Regions from separate parts of the Homo sapiens genome. Here regions 2 and 3 are each linked to region 1. Evidence: fine-mapped expression QTL. A gene starts in region 1. Each other region holds a variant in brackets. All regions are shown on one strand. Distances are from middle to middle.

Region 1 (8,180 bases):
ATATCAAGATACTAAATTTTTTTTTTGTGAAAAAGGTCCGACTTAGAAAACAAAGACTGTACACAAAGAAAACATATAAAGAGAGCTGTTTTTTAATTTTTTTTTTTGAGACAGAGTCTCGCACTGTCACCTGGGCTGGAGTGCAATGGTGCAATCTCGGCTCATTGCAACCTCCAACTCCTCGGTTAAAGCGATTCTCCTGCCTCAGCTTCCCAAGTAGCTGGGATTACAGGGGCCCACCACAACACCCGGCTAATTTTTTGTATTTTTAGTAGAGATGGGGTTTCACTATGTTGGCCAGGCTGGTCTTGAACTCCTGACCAAGTGATCCACCCACCTTAGCCTCCCAAAGCGCTGGGATTACAGGCATGAGCCACCGCACCCAGCCCGAGAGCTATTTTTTAAACATGAAAAGGTAAGCTCTATTATAGAAATTGTGGTGGAAGAAGTCAATGCAACAGGAAACAAACCCAAGTTTACAATATTTGTCAAATTTTAAAAACACAATTTTTACTATGTATTTTCAGATTATTTTCTCCAAATATCTAGGATAATATGTTTAGTCCCTTGGTTCTTAAAAACCAAGTAGCCACCAATAAAAAGTCAGCAAACACTACATGCAAACACCAGAATGGTGGTAAGAAATTAATATATTCATGCCTTAAAGAGAAAGAGAGGGAGGTTAAAAAAAAAAAAAAAAAAAAAAAGGCTTTGCAAATTTTCAAGTAAATTTACTAATACTTCTGATAATTTAACACCAAAAAACCCCAAACAAATCCTAACCAATTTGTTTAACAGAAACGTCATGCAGGCAGGGTTTTTTTCCCCCTTTCTTTGGATCATTCAACCTCTTTGACACGAATATGCCTTCACTGCAAGCCAGGCAAAACCAAAAAGGCAACCCGTTTTCTGCATGCTCGTCAAATACCTGGACTCTGCGTTTACGAAACGATGACAACATGATGGAGGAATGTGGAGTCTAAAGAGGGAGGGGGAAGAGCAAGATAACAAGCTTCTAAGGGCAAACGGAACAAAATCATGAAGAAAACAGATTATTTAAAAAATATGAATACAGATTAAAAATCCAATTTCAGATATTTTTTCAGTGTCTTCTCTCTGACATTCTGTATAGCGTCTAAATCCCACAAGGGATTTAAAATGTGGAAGGAGAACCAAGGTTCCCAGGTCTTGGCAGTTACTTTCTAGATATGCTGCCCTGGTCAAGTCTCATTCTCCTTGGGGCCTCAATTTCCCCACTTGTTAAAGTAATAATACCGAATATACTTTTTCAAACTAAACATGCCTTCCTCCTGAGGATCCCAGGACAAGATGATTCCTAAATCCCCTTCCATTCAGCAATAAAAGAGCATGACTTCATGAAATTGCCACAAAGTAGAACTCAAGCCACAAAGATCTGACTTGGGCCTAGTTTGCCAGTACACTTACTTTACAAAATACTATTTCCTGTTCAAAATTGGTACAAGAGGAATATGCAAAAAAGGTGGAAGAGAGGTGATGGTTTGCAGCACAGCTGCTCCAGTCAAGTGGCCCCCAGTGATGAGCTATGCAGTCCTCCTCCTCCTCCGCATTCCTGGAGTCAGCATTTGCCACTAGGGCGTTGCATTCTTCTACAGTACAGCCGCAGCTGATATGCTGCAACAGATGAGTGCGTAACTAGTGGGATCCCTGCATAGCCCACGGAGGACTGATTACAAAGGCAGGCCAGCCTTGAACACACTTGTCCATTCTTAGTGTAGATTCAGCAGTGACAGGACATGGGGGACTATTCCTGAGATCCACTTTTCAGGATCTGCAGTTGACCCCCAACTTTGGATGAAGGCAGGTAAGAAAAAGCAGAAAAAATTCTAACCCAGGGAACCAAAAGACATACTTAAAACAGCTCTCCCCATGTGCACCTCTTCATCATATTGCTTGACAGGCTTACACTGCAGCCTGTGACATACCAGATTTCTCCAATTATTAGATGACTACAAAACACACTGCCAAGACCAAAGCATATCAGAGAATCAGTTACTAGGCTGATGGTTTGCCATAAGAACTGCTTCACACTTGTCCAGGATGAAGCAAAAATCCTCCTTTCCAGTCTCTCCATCAAGGTCCCTGGATAACAGTTAACACACTTTGAGGGTCCCTTTGAGTAATTATTGGCCCAGTTACTAAAAAAGGCTTATTGTTAATTTCCTGCACAGAGGCCTTTACTGCAGCACTTTTTTTTTCCTCCGCAGCACATTCAATTTGACCTTTCAAAATCTAAGACATTAGTTAGCTGCAATGAAAGGGAAAATAAACGACTAGTTAAGGAGTCGGAACCTTGACTCAATGGCTTCATATAGCTGAGTGTTCCTCCTGCTATTTCCAAGATTTTCTGTTTCCTGGCTCCAAGACACCCCCACCCTTCCATCTTTGATACATTCTGTTTTACTTAAGGCCAATTGCTATGACGACGCAATTTCTCAACACATTATGAAAATACTTCATATGGCCTCTCTCCTGTTCTTCCCGAACAGCCATGATGGTAAGTTTTTCTAAAATAACATGATGAAGACAGAACAAAGGGCTTAAATATTTTAGGATCTATTATATAAAAGAGATCTGATTAGATGTTGGAACAGTTCAAGCATCATCTCAACCCAGCTTTCTGAGCTATTTAGGCTTTTCATTTAAAACATATTCAACTTTTAACAAGGCGCTTATTTAAAATATATTTTACTCTAGTACATCAGAGACTTTTGAAAGCGATGTTCTAGGGGAAGCGTCTAATCAAATTCTCAGGGACAGCTTTCAAACAAAAGACTGTTCTATCATTCAACAGTGGTATGGTAGAATTTTTGACACTGTATCTCGACTCGAAAGACCCAGTCCCAGGAAACACACACACAAACAAGAACGCTAAGCTATTAAGTTATTTGATTTGAGCCACATACCATGCAAGCACTGCATTTACCTATTATTTACAAGCAAATCACAACTAGGAAGAAAGAAAAATGTTTATTACAAGGAAAGAAAAGGAGACGGCCAGTCTCAGACCCTTCTGCGTTCAGAGAGACGGCAGAGATTCGCCATGCAGGATGAAATTAAGGTCAGAGAGCCGTTTACGCTATGCTCGGGCTCCCCGGGCTCTTCCTCCCTCTACGGCTGGCCGGCATTGCTGGTGCGATTCGGAAGAACGAGCTGCAGAAGTCGCTCCCGGCCGAGGGAAGGGACCGGGGGCGGTGCGGGGAGCGTTCTGCAGGGAGGCGGCTGGCGAAGATCCCGACGAGGGAGCCCCCACCCACCTGCCGCAGCCGGATGGGGCAGGGCAGGGCCGCGCCGCAGCCAGGCTTGGGGGTGGTTGGGAGGGACCCGGCGGCCTCGCGCCCCCTCCCCCCGTCAGTGACATTCCAGCGGCGGCGCCGAGCCTCGGCCCGGCTGCTCCTCCGCAGCCCACGCGCCACAAAAGCAGCGGCAGCGGCTTCCCCCACTCAGCCGAATGGAGGCAGCCCCGCGGCCCGCCCGGCTCACCTGTCCGCGCGCCGGCCCCGCCCCGCCTGAAGAGCTGCCCAGCTCCCACCCGGGGGTCGGCTGCCCGGGGCCCCGCTCCCTCCCGGAGCTCCCCGGCTGCCCCTCTCACCGGCTCTCGGGGGGTGAGGGGCGTGGGTGCGTCGGGCCGAGGGGTGCTGAAGGACCGAGGAGCCTCCGCGGCCTCCGCTCCACACCGTTCACTCCGCAGCGGGTAGTGGCGGCGACGCGCGCGCCCCGCCTCTTTTATAAGCGGCTACGCGCGCTCCCGCGGCGGGCGGGCGCGAGCGCCGGGGGAAGCGCCCCGGCGCTGCGCGAGGGGTGGGGGAGCGCGCCGGCGGAGCAAAGGGGGCGGTGCTCCCGCCGGCTCGCCGCCCGACCGCCCGGCGGAAAGGGCCGAGCGATCCCGGAAGGAGCCGAAGCGACAATGCGGGGGAAGAGGTGAGCGAGGGGCGGGCCGCGGGAGGATGGGGAAATGGGGCGCGCGCAAGGGGTGAGGGGTGATGGTGCAGTGAGGTCACTGCCTACGCCCTGGCGGTAGAGACGCTCCCGCCTCACCTCCCTCCCCGCAGCTTGCGCCCCGCCACCGCCCGCCCTGCGGACAGTCGTCTGCATCGCACCACTCCGCCCTGGGAGCTCTTCCAGGACTGCGGAGAAGGGCGGGGCGGGGGTATCGCTGCAGTCTGGCTGGGGATGCTGCGCGCCCCGGCCGGAAAAACGCCCAGTCCCAAAGGGTGAGATCACCCGAGTGCGTCTCTTCCTGCTCACTTTCCCGAGGAGGAGGCTGGCGCTGGGGTCCCAAGTCAGCCTAATTCGGTGGGGGCTGGGGTCAAGAAGACGCGGATGATTTGGGGCCCCGGGTTTGAGGAGGTGGTGAGAGGAAAAGGCCAAATCCGAATCAGAAAAAAAATTAAGTCGACTAATTTGGGGCATAAAGCTGTCATTCTGGGATTTGGAGAGTTAATTTCTTATGTTCTTGGAGATTATGGGGGAGGAAACGGCAGCGGCAAAATAATAATTTCTTACATTCCTGCAACAAAAGCTTTCTCACAGGTCGCCAGTGGAATAGGCTACATTCATCCTATTTCATAAACAAGACATTAAGGTTCTTTCTGGCACAATTAATCGAACTTGCCTTGTGTACTAGGCACTATGCTAAGTATTTCGTGTTACCTTTTCATTTCTTAATCTTTGCAATAATTTTATGAGATGTTTTCCCATTTTACAAATGGGCACTCTTACATAATGCTCATGTAGGCTAAGTCTCTTGGCCCAGGTCAGGCAGCTACCAATTGGAAGAGCTAGGATTTACATCTCAGCAGTCAGAACCTTCCCTTTGCAACCGTATGTGTATTGCCTTCAAATAGGAAAGGGAGGCATTTTGATGCGGGTGGCTGCTGGGGTGCAGAAAGAGAAAAATAAGATTCTCAGAATTTCTGATACTTAAAGTCCTAGCAGTTTAAGGTCCTGGCTCTAAACTCTGTAGCCAGAAGCCCTGGATTAGGAAGCCCTTTCCCTATCCCCATTCCGGTGACAGCTGGGCCGCAGCCACTGGGAGTAACACCCAGATCATTCCTGTGCAGTCAGGCAGACGGGGAGCTCTGCAGCTTAGGAAGGCTTCAGCCTCCTGGTTACCAAGCAGCTCTCCTCTTTAAATAAATATAAAGTCATTGGACACTGCACCAGAATCTGGGCCCAGACCTGGCCCTGAGCTTCCTGGCCCTCTGCAGTTTGGCTTCTTTCCCCGTGCCTGGGACCTGCAATACGGTTTCTAAGCTGTCCTGGCTGTAGCCATGATACTGAGGAAAAATTTCCCTACCCACTCACTCCATTGGAGTGGAGAGAAAAGCAGTGACCACACCCCAGAAGCTGCTTTAGAGAATCTGTGTAGGAGAAACGTAGGAGCTGAGAGGCATTTCCTGCAATCTTCTATGTAGAGAAAACAGCGCTGAGCAACTCCTCCCTGGAGTGTGCATTTCTGAGAACAGCTGATGGTATCCGTGGCCTCTTCTCCAGCAGGTTGCAGTAAAATGTTTGATCAGATATTCAGCTCTGGGTACAAAATGGCTAACACAATTGTAGCTCCCTAAAATTTCCAAGACCTTCTGCTCCAGCAAAGAAAGCACCTTGGGACTGAGGGGCAGGAGCTGTTCAAAAGGGAGGGTTTTTCTATTAAATCACCCTGGCCCCATAGTGAACTGGGGGTTCTGCTGCTTTTGCTGGATGCAAAATGGAGACCTAAGAGAGAGCTCTGTATTGATAGAGAAACTAAAATCTTATTTGATTCTTTGTGTGATCTGAGACATGACCAAGAAACAGTATCCCCAGCGCTCTCCACCTCCCACCCACTCACCCTGCCTTCTCTGCACTTGGCACTTGAAACCAGCCATTCTTCACTGTTCTGTTGTCTGCCTACCTCACCTCCCACCAGTTTCACCATATGCCTAACACCCTAGTAGGTGTGGAAAGCTGGGGGAAAAAACAACAACAGAAAAAGCACAGGACAGTGTAACGACTTTGTAACCAATCAACTCCATGTTCTCAGTCACACCTCTCCTGGCCTCCTAAAAAGCAGAGGGTTGGACTGAATTCTCAACTCCTTTTTCTAGTTTCAGCAATCCTCAGAAGGTTTGATAGGCACCCTAAGCTTAAGCGTCTAGATAGTCCCAATACTTTTTCAGGTTGTTGAAAAGGTCAACTGTTGGAAAACACACTAATTGTGGTGATGTGTCCATATGTTCCAGCCAGGGAAAGTCACTTGCCCACTCTCCCTGGGAGAGACCCCTTCCCCTCCCCTCCCCTCCACACCCTGTCTCACCCCCTGCAAAGATAACAGGCAAGCACTTCCACTATTTTTCTTCCCTAGAAGGGAGCTGATTGGGAAGAGTCATGCTGGCAAGTGGACTGCACTTCCCATATGACATTCTGCAGTGTCAGAGCTGGCAAGAAATAACACAGCTCTTCAAATCACAGTGCCTGGATGAACCTTGAAGGCTTTATGCTAAGTGAAATACGCCAGACACATAAGGATGAATACTGTATGACCATTCCACTTATATGAGATCCCTAAAATTGTCAGATTCATAGAGACAGAAAAAACTGTTGTTACCAGGGTCTGAGGGGAGGGAGGAATGGGTTATTATTGTTTAGTGGGAAAGTTTCCGTCTGGGATGGTGAAAGAGAGTTCTGGAGAGGATGGTGGTGATGGTTGCACAACACTGTGACTGTACATAATGCCACAGAACTGTACACTTACAAATGGTTAGGCAGGGCTTGGTGGCTCACGCCTGTAATCCCAGCACTTTGGGAGGCTGAGGCGGGCGGATCACTTGCGGTCAGGAGCTTGAGACCATCCTGGCCAACATGGTGAAACCCTGCCTCTACTAAAAATACAAAAATTAATCGGGTGTGGTGGTGCACACCTGTAATCCCAGCTACTCGGGAGGCTGAGGCAGGAGAGTCGCTTGAACCCGGGAGGCGGAGGTTGCAGTGAGCCAAGATCGCGCCATTGCACTCCAGACTGGGCGACAGATTGAGACTCCGTCTCAAAAAAAAAAAAAAGGTTAAACTTTTTATGTTCTATATATTTTACTACAATCAAAAGACAAAGCAAAACACAAGCCCCTGCTTCTAAAATCAAGCACCACATTAGAGAAGCAGCCTGATAGGCTCTGGGAGTGTGGCCTTACCAGGGTTTTAAGACTCCAGGTGACAGCAGAGATGTAAACTCCTCCCTCCCCTCCCCTAATCCGACCTTGTAATCTGGCTCCGGTCATTTCACATCTGTTCCCTTGCAGGGCTGCCTGCTAGGCCTGGTCAGTCCGTGTCCCTCCTGCTTACCTTGAACCCACTACTACAGTTAGTTTCACAAATCACGTCAAACCTTCTCAACAAGTTTCAGTTGTTTCCCATTGCCTACGGAATAGGCCGAAATTTGCAGCCTCCACAATCTTGTTCCAATTTACCTTTTCACAGCATCATTCCCTACAGTTCTGCTCTACTGGTCTGAGGTTAGCCTCTTTCCAAAACATGTTATTTCTCCAACTCCATGCTTTTGTGAACAATTTTTTCCTCCAATTAGAACATCCTTTCCCAACACTCATGCCTCCTTTCTGCCTGAAAATCTTACCCATTTTGAGTATATGTAAGTAGAACCTTTCTGGAAGAGCAGTTGGCAATGTGGATCAAAATATAAAATTTGCATGCCATTTGACCCAGCAATGTTAGTTACATCTAGAAATCTGCCTTAAGCAGGACAAGATGCATTTTCATTCAGGACGGGCGTGGTGGCTCACACCTGCAATCCCAGCACTTTAGGAGGCTGAGGCAGGCAGATCACTTGAGCCCAGGAGTTTAAGACCAGCCCGGGCACCATGGCAAAACCCCATCTCTACAAAAAAATGCAAAAATTAGCCAGATGTGGTGGCTTGCGCCTGTAGTCCCAGCTACTCAGGAGGCTGTGGGAGGATCACCTAAGCGCGGGAGGTCAAGGCTGCAGTGAGCCATGACTGTGCTACTGCATTCCAGCTCAGGCAATAGAGTGAGACCTTGTCTCAAAAAAAAAAAAAAAAAAAAAAAGAATGTTAATAATTTAAAAAAATATATTAGGCATAACCTAGTCACCAAGTGAAAAATGATTAATTACGATTCATAAATTCAAG
Region 2 (8,180 bases), 40 kb before region 1:
GGAATGGAGTACTGGTATGTGCTACAAAAAGGATGAACCTGGAAAACATTATGGGCCGGGTGCGGTGGCTCACACCTGTAATCCCAGCACTTTGGGAGGGCAAGCTGGGCAGACGGCCTGAGCTCAGGAGTTTGAGACCAGACTGGGCAACATGGCAAAACCTTGTCTCTACAAAAAATACAAAAATTAGCTGAGCATAGTGGTGCATACCTATAATCCCAGCTACTCAGGAGGCTGAGGCAGGAGGATCACTTGAGCCCAGGAAGCGGAGGCTGCAGTAAGCCGAGACTGGGCCACTGCACTCCAGCCTGGGCAACAGAACACCTTGTCTCAAAAAATAAATAAATAAAAGAAAGAAAACCTAAACAAAAGAAGCCAGTCACAAAAAGTGACATAACGTGATTCCATTTATATAAATGTCCAGAATAGGTAAATCTGGAGGCAAGCAGCAGATGAGTGGCTGCGTGGGCCACTGGGGTTAGGGAGAATGGCAAATGAATGCTTGACGGATATGTGGTTTTCTTCTGAAGTGACACAAATGTTTCGGAACTAGAGGTGGTGGTTGCACAACACTGTGAATGTACTAAATACCACTGAATTGTACAGTTTAAAATGGCTAGCTTTGTGAATTTACCCCAATTAAAAAAAAAAGAGTACTTTCACATCTATTGTAGTTTAGGCTTAGAAAAGTTCTTATAACAACATGTAGAGAACATAGCATATCTTTCCTTAAAACTAAATTTGTCCAAAAAGGTTTCAATTAAAGTCTTTTAAAAATAGCTACACAGGCCAGGCATGGTAGCTCATGCCTGTAATCCCAGCACCTTGGGAAGCTGAGGTGGGCAGATCACTTGAGGCCAGGAGTTCAAGACCAGGCTGGCCAACATGGCAAAATCCCGGTTGTACTAAAAATACAAAAATTTGCCAGATGTGGTCGTGCGTACCTGTAATCCCAGCTACTCGGGTGGCTGAGGCATGAGAATCACTTGAGCCTGGGAGGCAGAAGTTGCAGTGAGCTGAGATCGAGCCACTGTACTCTAGCCTGGGTGATAGAGTGAGACTCTGTCTTGAACAAAAAAAAAACTGAGGCCGGGCACGGTGGCTTACGCCTGTTATCCCAGTACTTTGGGAGGCTGAGGCAGGCGGATCACCTGAGGTCAGCAGTTTGAGACCAGCCTGACCAATATGGTGAAACCTCATCTCTACTAAAAATACAAAAACTAGCCAGGCGTGGTGGTGAGCTACTCGGGAGGCTGAGACAGAACTGCTTGAACCTGGGAGGAGGAGTTGCAGTGAGCCGAGATCGCACCATTGCACTCCAGCCTGGGCGACAAAAGAGAGACTCTGTCTCAAAAGGAAAAAAAAAAAAATTGAAAAAAAAAAAAAAAAAAAGCTACATACATGATGGAATATAATCTATGTAATTTGCATTCCAGTAATTTGCAGTCAGAAATCAAGAGACTCTGGCCAGGCGCAGAAGCTCATGCCTATAATCCCAGTACTTTGGGAGCCTGAGGCGGGTGGATCACCTGAGGTCAGGAGTTTGAGACCAGTCTGGCCAACATGGTGAAAACCTGTCTCTACCAAAAAATACAAAAATTAGCAGGGCGTGGTGACGCACATCTGTAATCCCAGCAACTCAGGATGCTGAGGCAGGAGAACCACTTGAACCCAGGAGGCAGAGGTTGCAGTGAGCCGAAGTCATACCACTGCACTCCAGCTTGGATGACAGTGAGAATCCATCTCAAAAAAAAAAAAAAAAAAAAATCAAGAGACTCAAATCTTTAAACAAATTTTCAGCTGAGCCTGAAGACTGCCCATACCTTCTGGAAGTCATCAAACTTCTTCTGGAGCACCTCAACCTGCTCCAAGTCTGCTCCGACCTCCTCACTTGTCAGAGCGGCTTCCTTCTCATTGATCCATTGCTGTAGTTCATTCGCTTCACGGAACAACATAAACTTCTTGCAACTCTTCTCCAACATGCCTTTACGCTTCTCACCCAGTTCCAGCAGAGAATGATATCTGATGGAATTCAAGAGGGTGACAAGAGGGACAAGGAAGGCAGTTAGCTGTAGATGCTAACATAAAGGCAAACCACGAGGTGTCTCCAAGATGTGGATTCCAGGCTACGAGTTTGTAATGATGATGCCCTAGTAACAGAGTTATCAGATGAAGACGAGGATCCCAAGTACCCACGCCACAGCCTGAGAGATATGCGCACACTGTACTGTTCACAACCAGGTGGCTAGAACAGCCAGGCACACTTATCCCCAGGCCGATTCTGCACTTAGAACAACACAACCACAAGGGACTGAAACCAAGCGCTTAGCACAGTAACACAGGGCTCATGCAACTACAGTGGAGAGACGAGATGAACTTGCTGGGCAGAATGTATACAGAGGGTTTTTCTGTCTTTTATAATTCTCTGAAGAGCCCCCAGGCTGGGGTGAGGTGGGGGAGGGTACACTGAGCTTTAAAATATCCTCATATAGGATGTTTTATCTCCATATTAGTAGGACATTTCTAAAATGATACATTCAGCTCTCAGAAAGTTTTGGCAAGTTCAGAAGGAAAATCAGGCACAGTACTGAGTATCTGTGCCATTCTGTTACTTGAAAGATTTCTTAAGAATCAAAGAATATTCTAACCCTCGGGAACTAAAATACAAAAGGCTGAAATATTATCTTTGAACACGAAAACAACAAACAATAAAAAACTAAAAATTAAAAAAAACTAGAATCATCATCAAATCTAAGTGTCCCAAAGTAAAATAAAAAAGCAATGAGTTACCAAGAATCAGAGCACTTTAAGAGAAGCATATGATTTCCTTCCTACTAAGGAAAACTATAGAACAGGCCTTCAGGTTTGCTGCTGATAGTGGCTGGTCCACCACAAAAACCAACAGGAGGGAGAACCAACACCACTCTGAACACACAGCTGCACATGGAAGCAACCAATGAGATAAGCAGTCATCGACCGACACAGCTGCACCGCGACCTCTTCCCTTGTGAGCCAAAGCTGCTGCACGGACAGGCAGTTCCTCCCACCACCTCATCTTTCTGGATGGACAAAGGCCTTCAAGAGAAGCGGCAGAGGGAGAATGGATAGGGTAGCAGTGGACATTGGTGCTCTGCAAGACTCTCAGCCTACTCACAGTTCTTCCACCTGCTTCATACGCAGAGATACACTGCCGGCCTCCTTAGTTATGCGTGTCCTGCACAGAGGGGGCACAGCAAAAGCATGCACGAATTAGTGGGGTTAATCCACAGGGATGAAAGGCAGCAGCTCCGACTGGTGCCATGATGGTGGATGCTTAATGTTGGGAAACTATGGAGTTATTCAACAGGTCTAAGGAGCAGTCTAAGTCATGAGTGACATGACAGTAAAGAAATAGCAGGAAAATTAGAGGGTTAGTTCACCTTCATTTTCCTGGCGGGTCTGCCATGCTTAAGGCAGATTTTCCTGTGCTGAAAACACTGGTAACTTCACAGAGCAAGGTCAGGGAACAGACTGGACTACCCTTAGAAAGAAATTTTACTGAGTGCTAACAGGCAATTTAGCCACGTATTTGATCTTTTTCCTCTTATATTTATGACCCAGACTACTGGTAAGAATACAAACCAAGGCCAGGCGTGGTGGCTCACGCCTGTAATCCCAGCACTCTGGGAGGCCAAGGCGGGCGGATCACGAGGTCAGGAGTTTGAGACCAGCCTGGCCAACACAGTGAAACCCCATCTCTACTAAAAATACAAAAATTAGCTGGGCATGGTGGCATGTGCCAGCAGTCCCAGCTACTTGGGAGGCTGAGGCAGGAGAATCACTTGAACCCAGGAGGCAGAGGTTGCAGTAAGCCAAGATCACACCACTGCACTCCAGTCTGGATGACAGAGCGAGAATCTGTCTCAAAAAAAAAAAAAAAGAACACAAACCAAAACCTCCCATTCTTATCTCTATAGTAACAGAATCTATAAAGTGGACAAATAACTCTGATCTTACTGAGGATCACTGGAGCCCAAAAATTTCACTATTCTACCCAAACTCTAGTGGGAATGTATTTCCTGGATATTTCCCAAGTGTCCAAAACTGCTGATTCCACTAGTGGAGTCAGAAATACCCTAAAGGAGGGACACAGGGCAATATGGGGGCTCAGCTAGAGGAAAGAGGACAGAGCCATTTCATTACAAAATTCCATTCTCAGAACTCAAAGCTATGGCAGACAGAGAAGCTCTGAAAGCAGCTTTTCAAAGTGGACAGAGCTGTAGGGGCGTAGAGTATCTGAAAATCCAATTTCAAAAAGCATCTCGAACCAAAAGGCAAATGGCAATGATTAGAAAAATTCTGGTTAGGAAAAACTCATGAACACTGGTGGAAAAAAAACAAAGCAATATAAGTCATCAGTCAGGGGTCTGAGACCCACACAGGGAGGTCTGTGGGCTCAAAGTGGGGTGGAGACAGCAGGAGGCGTGCAGGTGGGCTCCAGGAGCCT[C/T]AGGACACGCCTAAGCTTCGGCCCATGTGGAACAGAGTATGCCTATGGGACGCCTAGCCCTTGCGGCCCCCAGTGTCATCCTTACTGATTGTCAATCTGCTCCTGCCGCAGTGCTATGCTGCCTTGCTCCTCCAGGAGATTCTCCCGGGAGGCTGACTGGGCGGGGTCCAATTTCTTCACGTACGCAGCCGGCACAAAACCCTGACGATCGTTCACTTCCACTTTCCACCAATCCTAAGGAAAAAAGAGGGAGAACTGAAAGTAAATTCCTTCTCTGAGAGGGAGAATCCAAGGAGGTCACGTGTATACACACACACGAGAGCGTTGTTTTAAGAGGTCCAAAACGGCCGGCCACAGTGGCTCACACCTATAATCCCAGCACTTTGGGAGACCGAGGCGGGTGGATTACGAGGTCAGGAGATGGAGACCATCCTGGCCAACACAGTGAAACCCCGTCTCTACTAAAAAAGATACAAAAAAAATTAGCTGGACATGGTGGTGGGCACCTGTAGCCCCAGCTACTCGGGAGGCTGATGCAGGAGAATGGCATGAACCCAGGAGGCAGAGCTTGCAGTGAGCTGAGATTGCGCCACTGCACTCCAGCCTGGGCGTCAGAGCGAGACTCTGTCTCATAAAAAAAAAAGGTCCAAAATGATATTAAAATCACTTTCTATAAGGTCTGATAATTCAGTCCCTTCCTCACCTGCCATACCTGCAGAGGGTCACAGGCAGAAGAGCAATGCCGCCTGCCACCAAGGCTGGCCTTCTCTCTGCTTAGATGCTCCAGAGCTGTGCTAACACTGTAGCCACCAGTCACATGTGCCCACTTAACTTTCATTGAGTTAGAACTCTTTTTTATTGGAGACAGAGTCTTGCTCTGTTGCCAGGCTGGAGTGCAGTGGCACGATCTTGGCTCATTGCAACCTCTGCCTCCTGGGTTTAAGTGATTCCCCTGCCTCAGCCTCCCAAGTAGCTGGGACTACAGGTGCACGCCACCACGCACAGCTAATTTTTTTGTATTTTAGTAGAGACGGGGTTTCACCATGTTGGCCAGGATGGTCTCAATCTCCTGACCACATGATCCACCCACCTCAGCCTCCCAAAGCGCTGATATTATAGGCGTGAACCACCACGCCTGGCCCTTTTTTTTTTTTTTCTTTTTTAATATAAATAGAGATGAGGTCTCGCTATGTGCCCCAGGTTGGTCTCGAACTCCTGGGCTCAAGCGATCCTCCTGTCTCGGCCTCCCAAAGTGCTGGGACTACAGGCGTGAGCCACCATGCCCGGCTTCATCGAGTTATAATTTAATTAAATAAAACACCCAGTTGTACTAGCCATATTTTAAGGGCTTACTATCACACGTAGCTAGTAGTTACTGCAGAAGCAGCACAGACACTTACATTTCCACCATCACAGAAAGTTCTACTGGGCAATGCTGCTCTTGAATAAACCAAAGTTAGACCACAAGTTGGTTTAGGTTTAAATTAGACTCAATAGAAAGATAAGAATCACAGGTTTCCTCAAATTATCATGACAAGGATAAATAAGGTGTGGGAATGGGAATAAACTTGCTCTTAAAAATGGCCAAGGACATTTCTCCAGCCTTAACTAAAACAGAAGGCAGGCCTCTTTCAGGATCAGTCAATCTGTGCATGCTTCAACACCACTGTCAATTCAGAGTGTGTTAGGGAAGAAAGGCTGGTGGACCAGGATGGATTTATTATTGTCATTATTTAGCCTAAAGAAGACAAAGCCTGTGGGGTGAGGTCACAGCTGTCTTCAATGATCTGCTGGGCTGAGATGTAGCTTGTAGTCTGGAGTAAGAACCAACAGGTCGGCCAGGCGCGGTGGCTCATGCCTGTAATCTCAGCACTTTGGGAGGCTGAGGCGGGTGGATCACGAGGTCAGGAGATCGAGACCATCCTGGCTAACACGGTGAAACCCCGTCTCTACTAAAAATACAAAAAATTAGCCGGGCGTGGTGGCAGGCACCTGTAGTCCCAGCTGCTCGGGAGGCTGAGGCAGGAGAATGGCGTGAACCTGGGAGGTGGAGCTTGTAGTGAGCTGAGATCATGCCACTGCACTGCAACCTGGACGACAGAGCAAGACATTGTCTCAAAAAAAAAAAAAAAAAAGGCCGGGCACGGCGGCTCATGCCTGTAATCCCAGCACTTTGGGAGGCTGAGGTGGGTGGATCACGAGGTCAGGAGATAGAGACCACGGTGAAACCCCATCTCTACTAAAAATACAAAAAATTAGCCAGGTGCAGTGGTGGGCGCCTGTAGTCCCAGCTACTCGGGAGGCTGAGGCAGGAGAATGGGGTGAACGCAGGAGGCGGAGCTTGCAGTGAGCTGAAATCGTGCCACTGCACTCTAGCCTGGGTGACAGAGCGAGACTCTGTCTCAAAAAAAAAAAAAAAAGAAAAGAAAAAGAAAAAAAAAGAACCAACAGGTCCAAGTTATACAGAAAGCAAACTTTGGCTTGACAGGACAAAAATTCCACCTAGAGACACTCAATGGTGAAAATAAGCTATCCTTCTGAGTGTGATTATCTATGCTTCTTGCAGGTATTCAAGAAGACAGATTAACTTCTTGGTCATACACAGTACTGCATAAATGTATGTCACGTGGGGGATTGGTGAGGAAACTCATGTCTTTGAATTCTAAGCCTTCTCATTTCAGGGAGACATGCAACCCACAGAAACCCAACTGAGCATACGTGGAGGTGCCAGCGTGGAACAAACACACAGCCACTCTCTGTGCCTTGCCTTGTTGGTGCTGTTGAGTAAGGTAAGGATATCTCCCTTCTTCATGGTGACCTCTCGGGGACTCTTCTCCTGATAGTCGTAGAGAGCCAAGACCAGCTCCTTCCCAGTCTCATCATCCGTGGGGGCCACTTGTTGCTAAAAATCCAAAGGAAGGGCAAACATGGTAAAAACACGTCCGCGCTGAGTCATCTAAGTACAGAGCAGATTCAAATGCCACCAGCTGTACCAAATGTACCAAATATACACTCATGAGAATTCTTCACTGAAGCTACCAATAAAATCTGATCCAAGAACTTTAAATTTTTGGTATCTTTAAAAAAAAAATCTCATTTTGTCTGGGCACGGTGGCTCATACGTGTAATCTCAGCACTTTGGGAGGCTGAGGCAGGCAGATCACCTGAGGTCGGGGGTTCGAGACCAGCCTGACCAACATGGAGAAACCCCATCTCTACTAAAAATACAAAACTAGACAGGCGTGGTGGTGCGTGCCTGTAATCCCAGCTACTCGGGAGGATGAGTCAGGAGAATCACTTGAACCTGGGAGGCGGAGGTTGCGGTGAGCCAAGATCAGGCCAATGCACTTCAACCTGGGCAACAAGAGTGAAACTCCATCTCAAAAAAAAAAAAAAAAAATCTCATTTTAAAGTAGGGCCGGGCACAGTGCTCATACCTATAATCCCAGCACTTTGGGAGGCCAAGGCGGGCAGATCATGAGGTCAGGAATTCAAGACCAGCCCGGCCAACATAGTGAAACCCCATCTCTACTAAAAATACAAAAATTAGCTGGGCGTGGTGGCGGGCGCCAGTAATCCCAGCTACTCAGGAGGCTGAGGCAGGGTAATTGCTTCAACCTGGGAGGCAGAGGTTGCAGTGAGCCAAGATAGTGCCACTGCACTCTAGCAAGACTCCATCTCAAAAAAAAAAAAA
Region 3 (8,180 bases), 100 kb after region 1:
AAAAAGGCGGGGGGCTGGGCACGGTGTCTCACGTCTGTAATCCCAGCACTTTGGGAGGCCGAGGCAGGCAGATGACTTGAGGTCAGGAGTTCCAGACCAGCCTGGCCAATGGGCGAAACCCCATCTCTACTAAAAATACAAAAAAATTAGCCAGGCATGGTGGCGGGCACCTGTAATCCCAGCTACTCGGGAGGCTGAGACAGGAGAACTGCGCTAACCCGGAAGGCAGAGGTTGCAGTGAGCAGGGATCCCGCCACTGCACTCCAGTCTGGACGACACAGTGAGACTCCATCTCAAAAAAAAAAAAAAAAAAAAAAATCACCGGGCATGGTGGCTCATGCCTGTAATCTCAGCACTTTTGGAGGCTGAGGTGGGAGGATTGCTTGAAACCTGGAGTTTCAAACCAGCCTGGGCGACATAGGGGACACCATCTCTACAAAACATTTTTAAAAGTTAGCCGGGCATGGTGGCACATGCCTGTAGTTCCAGCTACTTAGGAGGCTGAGGTGGGAGGGTCACTTGAGCCTGGGAGTTCAAGACTGCAGTGAGCCGTGATTGTGCCACTGTACTCAAGCCTGGGTGAAATAGTGAGACTCTATCTCAAAAAATAAACATAAATAAATAAACATAAATAAATATACACATTTTTATACATACATATTATATGTAATATACCCAGGCTAGAGTGCAGTGGCATGATTACAGCTCACTGCAACCTCAAGCTCCTGAGCTCCAACGATCCTCCCTCCTCAGCCTCTTGAGTAGCTAAGACTGCTGGTGCGGGTCACCAAGCCCGACTAATTTTTTTTTTTTTTTTTTGAGACCGTCTCACTATGTTTCCCAGGCTGGTCTCTAACTCCTGGTCTCAAGTGATTCTCCCACCTCCCGAGGAGGTGCATCAGTCTCCCAAGTAGCTGGGATTACAAGGACAAGCCACTGCACCTGGTTGTAATATAAACTTGTATGAGATTGCTCTGTCACTGCCTGCTGGCCACCCCAGTGTCCCCACTCGACCATGGATTCCTTGTGGACTAGGGTGACATCACAGTCATTTCTGTATCTCCAGTAGCCAAACCAACCTGTAAACGGTAGACAATCAACAAAAAAAATGTTGAATGAATGTATGGATTAATAATACTATTAATAATGCCACCTAGTACATTAAGTGGGAGGGAGGTAGTATTCACGGGAAGGGAGGTAGCATTCCAGAGAATGCCCTGGGTACCCCTTGTAGACCTCACCCCCTCCCTGCAGGAGAGGACGTTAGCCAAGCAGCATCCCAGCTCCCAATCCTCCTGCGAGCCATCAGTCAGGAACAGCTTCACCCTCTTAGAGGTGAGCACGGAGCAGTCGGGGATGGTGGACAGGGGTCGGGGGAGCCCAGGCTGGGCCCCGCTTCCTTGGGTCACCTGGAGTAAATATCGCTATCAGTGGTTCTCAAACCAGAGTCACAGGCTTGTTAAAACACAGATTACAGGAACCAATTCTCTAAAAGTTCCTGATTCGATAGGTTTGAGATGGGGCCGGATAATTTGCATTTCTTTGTTGTTGTTGTTGTTTTTGAGACAGAGTTTCACGCTTGTTGCCCAGGCTGGAGGGCAGTGGCATTGATCTCGGCTCACTGCAACCTCCGCACCTCTGGGTTCAATCGATTCTCCTGCCTCAGCCTCCTGAATAGCTGGGATTACAGGCGCCTGCCACAACGCCTGGCTAATTTTTTGTATTTTTAGAAGAGACAAGGTTTCATCGTATTGGCCAGGCTGGTTTCGAACTCCTGACCTCAGATGATCCACCCGCCTCGGCCTCCCAAAGCCCAGGGATTATAAGAGTGAGCCACTGCGCTTGGCCAAAAATTTGCATTTCTAATAAATGTCCAGGTGATGCTGGTGCTACTGGCCAAGGATCACATTTGGAGAACCACAGAAGTATTCTCCAGACCCACAGGCCACCCCGAAGCTCAGAGGCTATAAGTCTGTCTGATCTCTGCATCCTCCACCTCCCCAGTCCCCATGGAGAGTTGAGAGGAACTCCTGCTCTGGCCAAAATGGAGCTGATGGTTTACACAGAAACATCCAGGAGTATGTGCATTTCAGAAAATAAGGGCAACCTGAGAAATTCCCTTGCCCCAAACACACAAACCACCCAAACCAGAAACAGTGTTCATCCTCCACTCGTCTCTAGAGTGTCCACTTCAGGAGCGCAGGGGCTGGGCCTGGGCCAGGATCTCCAGCCCCTGCAACTGTGGGAACCCTCCAGGCCAAGTTCAGATGCTCCCTCCTCCATGAGGCCTGCGGTGGCTCCCACTTCTCAGGATGCACTGATGGCTCCCTCCTGGGTATGGGTCCCAATATCCCTGCTGTAAGCACTCGTGTGTGTACGGAAATCTTGTGCCACCTCCTACTGGGTGCTCTCTTAAGGCAAGGGCCACTTCTTCATGTCCCACAGAATCCAGCACAAAATAGATGCTCTGAGAGTTTCACTTTAGAAGTCCAATCAAGGATCAAATAAACTTTAAAGACTTCTTTTGGGGAGCCAGGCACAGTGTGGCTCATGCCTGTAATCCTAGCACTTTGGGAGACTGAGCTGGGCTTGAGCCCAGGAGTTCAAGACCAGCCTGGGCAACATTGTGTCTCTACAAAAAATACAAAACTTAAAGCTGGGTCCGGTGGCTCACGCCTGTAATCTCAGCACTTTGGGAGGCTGAGGCGGGCAGATCACGAAGTCAGGAGATCGAGACCATCCTGGCTAACACGGTGAAACACCGTCTCTACTAAAAATACAAAAAAATTAGCTGGTTGTGGTGGTGGGCACCTGTAGTCCCAGCTACTCGGGAGGCTGAGGCAAGAGAATGGTATGAACCTGGGAGGCAGAGCTTGCAGCAAGCCGAGATTGCGCCACTGCACTTCAGCCTGGGCAACAGAGCAAGACTCTGTCTCAAAAAAAAAAAAATACAAAACTTAGCTAGACGTGGTGACACTAACCTGTAGTCCCAGCTATTTGGGAGGCTGAGTTAGAAGGATCACCTGAGCCTGGGGAGGTTGAGGCTGCAGTGAGTAGTGATCGTGCCACTGTGCTCCAGCCTGGGTAACAGAGTGAGACCTCATCTCAAAAAAAAAAAAAAAAAAAAAAACTTCTAAAACTTTTAGACTTTTGGGTCTAAAAGTAATGTTAAAAATTTGGGAGCAACCTAAATATGCATCAACAGAGGAATCAATTAACATAGTACATCTATGTTATCTGTATACCAGTTTAAACGCATTAGGTACATCCATAAGTAATAATAGGAGAAGATCCCCAAGACATACCATATGATCCTATGTATGCTAAAACATAAACTGTAGGAGCCAGGCATGGTGACTCACGCCTGTAATCCTAATACTTTGGGAGGCCTAGGTGGGAGGATCACTTGAGGCCAGAAGTTTCAGACCAGCCTGGCCAACATGGTGAAACTCTGTCTCTCCTAGAAATACAAAAATTAGCTGGGTGTGGTGGCACACACCTGTGATCTCAGCTACTGGGGAGGCTGAAGCATGAGAATTGCTTGAATGCAGGAGGTAGAGGTTGCAGTGATCCAAGATCACCACTGCACTCTAGCCTAGGCAAAAGAGTGACACTCTGTTTCAAACAAAAAAAAAGACAGGAAATCTTGTCAAAAGGGTTAGGCCAGTTTATATCCAACCAACAGTTTCTTTTTTTTTTTTTTTTTTTAATATATGTTAACTGCTGTTTTATTGTTATTATTATTTATTAATTAGAGATGGGGTCTTGCTATGTTGCCCAGGCTGGTCACGAACTCCTGAGCTCATGTGATCCTCCTGCTTCAGTCTCCCAAAGTGCTAGGATTACAGACATGAGCCACTGCGCTGGCCTATTTACTGCTGTTGACCTTTTAATGTGTACCTTACAGACTTTTCAAGGCAAATGAAAATATTTTTCACTTAAATCAACTCATATTACACTTACTATTCAACAACCTTTTTCTCTGATTTAACATGGCACAGGTACAGCTGTCTTTCTGTGTTGGAGCCCCAACCAACAGTTTCTGAGAATGCATAAACTCACCCAGTGTTTACTGTGTTATAAACAACAGGAGGGATTTTGCCAGTCTTACAAGCAACGAATATGCCCTCTGCTAGACAAACTATCCCTGCATGTAGAAAACTGAAAGTCTCTCAATTCTAAGAGATTTTTGTTTTGTTTTGTTTTGTTTGAGACAGGGTCTGGCTTTTTCACCCAAGGTAGATAGGCGAATTGCTAGAACCTGGGAGGCGGAGGTTACAATGAGCTGAAATGGCATCACTGTACTCCAGCCTGGGTGACAGAGCAAGACTCTCTCTCAGAAAGAAAAAAAAAAAAAAAGGAAATGTATTGTCTGGCAGTTCTGGAGGCTGGAGTTCAAGATCAAGGTGTCTGCAGGGCTGTGCT[C/T]CTTCTGAAGGTTCCAGGGAAGGATGTATTCCCAACCTTGTTCTAACTTCTGGTGGTTCCTTGGCAGCATAACTCCAACCTCCATCTGGTGTTCTGTGTGTGTGCTTGTGTCCAAATTTCCCCTTTTTGTAAGGACATCAGATATACTGGATTAGGGACCCACTCTACTTCAGCAGGGCCCCATCTTAACGGATTACATTTACGATGACCCTATATCCAAATGAGCAGCTGGGTGCAGTGGCTCATGCCTGTAATCCCAGCACTTTGGGAGGTGGAGGCGGGCAGATCATGAGGTCAGGAGTTCAAGACCAGCCTGGCCAATATGGCGAAACCCCGTCTCTACTAAAAATACAAAAATTAGCCAGGCATGGTGGCATGAACCTGTAGTCCCAGCTACTCGAGGAGGCTGAGGCAGGAGAATTGCTTGAACCAGGAGGTGGAGGTTGCAGTGAGCTGAGATCGTGCCACTGCACTCCAGCCTGGGCAATAGAGCTAGACTTTGTCTCAAAAAAACAAAACAAAACAAAATAAGGTCACATTCTGAGGTACTGGGGGTAAGAACTTCAACACATGAATTCAGGGAGGATGCAATTCAACCCATAACAGAATGTATAAGTTTAGTTTAAGGATTATAATAAAATAAACACTAACATAGCCAGGACACAGCTTAAGAAAGAAAAGAGGCTGGGCACAGTGGCTCAGGCCTGTAATCCCAGCACTTTGGGAGGTCAAGGAGGGCAGATCACTTGAGTTCAGGAGTTCAAGACCAGCCTGGCCAACATGGTGAAACCTCCATCTCTACTAAAAAAAATACAAAAATTAGCTGAGCATGGTGGCACATGCCTGTAATCCCAGCTACTCAGGAGGCTGAGGCAGGAGAATCTCTTGAATCCAGGAGGCAGAAGTTGCAGTAAGCCTAGATGGCACCACTGCACTCCAGCCTGGGTGACAGAGAGAGATTCTGTCTCAAAAAAGAAAAAAAAAGGAAAGGAAAGAGATTAAAAAATCATTTCAGGCTGGATGTGGTGGCACACACCTATAATCTTAGCACTTTGAGAGCCAAGGAGGGCAGATCACTTGAGCCCAGGAGTTCAAGACCAGTCTAGGCAGCATAATGAGACTTCGTCTCTACAAAAAAATAAAATAAAAAACCCAGCCGTCACAGTGTGTGCCTGTGGTCCCAGCTACTTGGGAGGCTGAGGTGGGAAGATCACCTGAGACTGGGGAGGTGGAAGCTACAGTGAGCTGTGATCAAGCCACTGCACTCCTGCCTGGGCGATAGAATGTTACTGTCTCAAAAAGAAAAAAAAAAAAGTCCAATTTTTTTTTCTTTTTGAGACAGAGTTTCGCTCTTGTTGCCTAGGCTGGAGTGCAATGGCGCGTGCGATCTCAGCTCACCGCAACCACCACCTCCCAGGTTCAAGCGATTCTCCTGCCTCAGCCTCCCAAGTGGCTGGTATTACAGGCATGCGCCACCACGCTCAGCTAATTTTGTATTTTTAGTAGAGACAGGGTTTCTCCATGTTGGTCAGACTGGTCTCGAACTCCCGACCTCAGGTGATCCGCCCACCTTGGCCTCCCAAGGTGCTGGGATTATAGGCATGAGCCACCACGCCTGGCCTAAAAAGGTCCAAATTTTATATCACCTGCAGCTGTGAATAAAGGTTCTCACTATTAGTAGCCATCAAGAATTTCTTAAGAGACTACCATTACAAAGCCTATTTCTCCTGATAAAAAGTTATCAGAAATTGTGTGTAGCTGTTTCAAACATGAAACCTGCCATAAAAAGTTATTTTCATAGAAGCAAGCTCACATTTCACATGTATTTATTTAGCTACAGTGTCTCGTTCTGTCACCTAGGCTGGAGTGCAGTGCTGTGATCATAGCCCATTGCAGCCTTGAACTCCTGGGTTAAAATGATCCTCCCACCTCAGCCTCCCAAGTAGCTGGGACTGCAGGTGCACACCACCACACTCGGCTATTTTTAACTTATTTATTTAGTTAGTTTGAGATGGAGTCTCGCTCTGTCACCCAGGCTGGAGTGCATTGGCGCAATCTCAACTCACTGCAACCTCCACCTCCCAGGTTCAAGTGATTCTCCTGTCTCAGCCTCCCAAGTAGCTGGGATTACATGTGCGTGCCACCATGTCTGGCTAATTTTTGTATTTTTAGTGGAGATGGGGTTTCACCATGTTGGCCAGGCTGGTCTTGAACTTCTGACCTCAAGTGATCTGCCCGCCTTGGCCTCCCAAAGTGCTGGCATTTCAAGAGTGAGCCAGGGCGCCTGGCCCTTGTGCATCCTTCTTGATAAAGAAAGGGAGGTTCCTGGCTGTTATCAGGAGAATGTCAGCTGCTTGCTCTGTGGAGAGCAGAGGAAGAATACAGGCAACCATTCTCTTCTCTTTTTGGATATACATGATCTGTACAAAGTGGTCATCACTAGGCCTCTCTTGTCCAGGCAATTTCCCCCTTAAGTTGTCATACATGCTACAAATTTTGTGCTTTCCGTCATCCATTCTAGCTTTAGGCAATAACTTATTTCATAGTCCTCCACATCAAGGAGTAATCTGTAGGTTTTCTCAATTATGATAAGGGTTTTGTTTGTTTGTTTGTTTGAGATGGAGTCTCCCTCTGTCGCCAGGCCTGGAGTGCAGTGGCATGATCTCAGCTCACTGCAACCTCCACCTCCCAGGTTCAAGCGGTTCTCCTGCCTCAGCCTCCTAACTAGCTGAGACTACAGGCACCCGCCACCACGTCCGGCTAATTTTTGTATTTTTAGTAGAGACGGGGTTTCACCGTGTTAGCCAGGATGGTCTCAATCTCTTGACCTCATGATCTGCCTGCCTTGGCCTCCCAAAGTGCTGAGATTACAGATTTGAGCCACTGCGCTCGGCCATGACAAGGGTTTTTCTCCTCTTGTCTCAAACTTTTGTTTCATCATCCTCACTCCAAGATGTCACAACAGCATCAATCATTTTTTGCTGATTATTTACACTAGAAACAGTCAGCTTTCCCAAAGAGCCCGCAAATTGCACTGGATTATAGGCGCGCTCCAGTTTAGCCACCTGAGGGGTGATGAGCTTGGTGCGCTCCTTTTTCGGGCCATCACCTTATATTTCTTCAGCAGCTGACTGTTTTTCCAAGTAATTCTGGTAATAAAAATAATCCAGGGATCAGTGCTTTGCAGTTGCATCATCTGGAATTTAGGGACCCAATCCTTTTCCCACTGCAACATGAGATTGGCATATGGATCCTTTCAGAGATGATCTTGATGACTGTTCCATTGACTTCCTCTATCTCCTGCACCATTGAGACTCTGATGCTGATTTCTATTCTGTTGCTGTCTCTGATGCAAGAGTCGACAGTGCTGTGGATGAAAGTGAGTTGCGTCTGGTATAAACATTGGGGCCTGAGATCTTAGGTTTTGCAGGTGAAGTCCTGGGCCAGGAGGGTGCTGCTGTGGAGGTGGTGCAGCAGGGGTGGAGCACTAAAGAAGGCACAGAAGCCTGGTGCTGGGGGAAGCATCTGCCCAACCGGCCCTTGTAGTAACTTGGGATTCATAGCAGCAAGTAGACTACCAGCAAATCCAGGGACCCAGGCGAACTGGCTGGGAGACATACATCCAGACTGTAGCGGGACACAGCAGAGCTGGCTTGATGTCCTGTCACTATAGGGAGCAGGATATTGTGGTGGCATTGGGGGCTGAACATGGACAGGCGTCAGACACAGAAAGTGTTGGGTGAGATTGGATACAG

Evidence for each region. PIP is the estimated chance that this variant, and not a neighbour inherited with it, causes the effect.
Region 2: its variant is the best candidate, but not a certain one, in a credible set for the expression of SPTAN1 in whole blood (TOPMed, PIP 0.55).
Region 3: its variant is the best candidate, but not a certain one, in a credible set for the expression of SPTAN1 in whole blood (INTERVAL, PIP 0.50).

The regions. Positions count from the first base shown.
Region 1 is chr9:128,548,148-128,556,327 of GRCh38, reverse strand. SPTAN1 (spectrin alpha, non-erythrocytic 1) reads right to left here and starts at 3,741. Exons shown (of 57, transcript NM_001130438.3): 1 at 3,632-3,741. It overlaps LOC101929270 (a long non-coding RNA gene), which reads left to right and starts at 3,915. Exons shown (of 4, transcript NR_188457.1): 1 at 3,915-3,960. RefSeq lists an enhancer at 793-1,292 and silencers at 1,484-1,778, 3,328-4,097.
Region 2 is chr9:128,588,017-128,596,196 of GRCh38, reverse strand. SPTAN1 (spectrin alpha, non-erythrocytic 1) reads right to left here. Exons shown (of 57, transcript NM_001130438.3): 21 at 7,254-7,388; 22 at 4,572-4,720; 23 at 3,155-3,214; 24 at 1,824-2,022. Among named protein-coding and RNA genes, the nearest start is that of SPTAN1, 40 kb to the right of the region's middle. The variant C/T (reference allele first, on the strand shown) is at 4,487.
Region 3 is chr9:128,445,168-128,453,347 of GRCh38, reverse strand. It overlaps the pseudogene LOC100129352. Among named protein-coding and RNA genes, the nearest start is that of ODF2, 6.7 kb to the left of the region's middle. The variant C/T (reference allele first, on the strand shown) is at 4,426.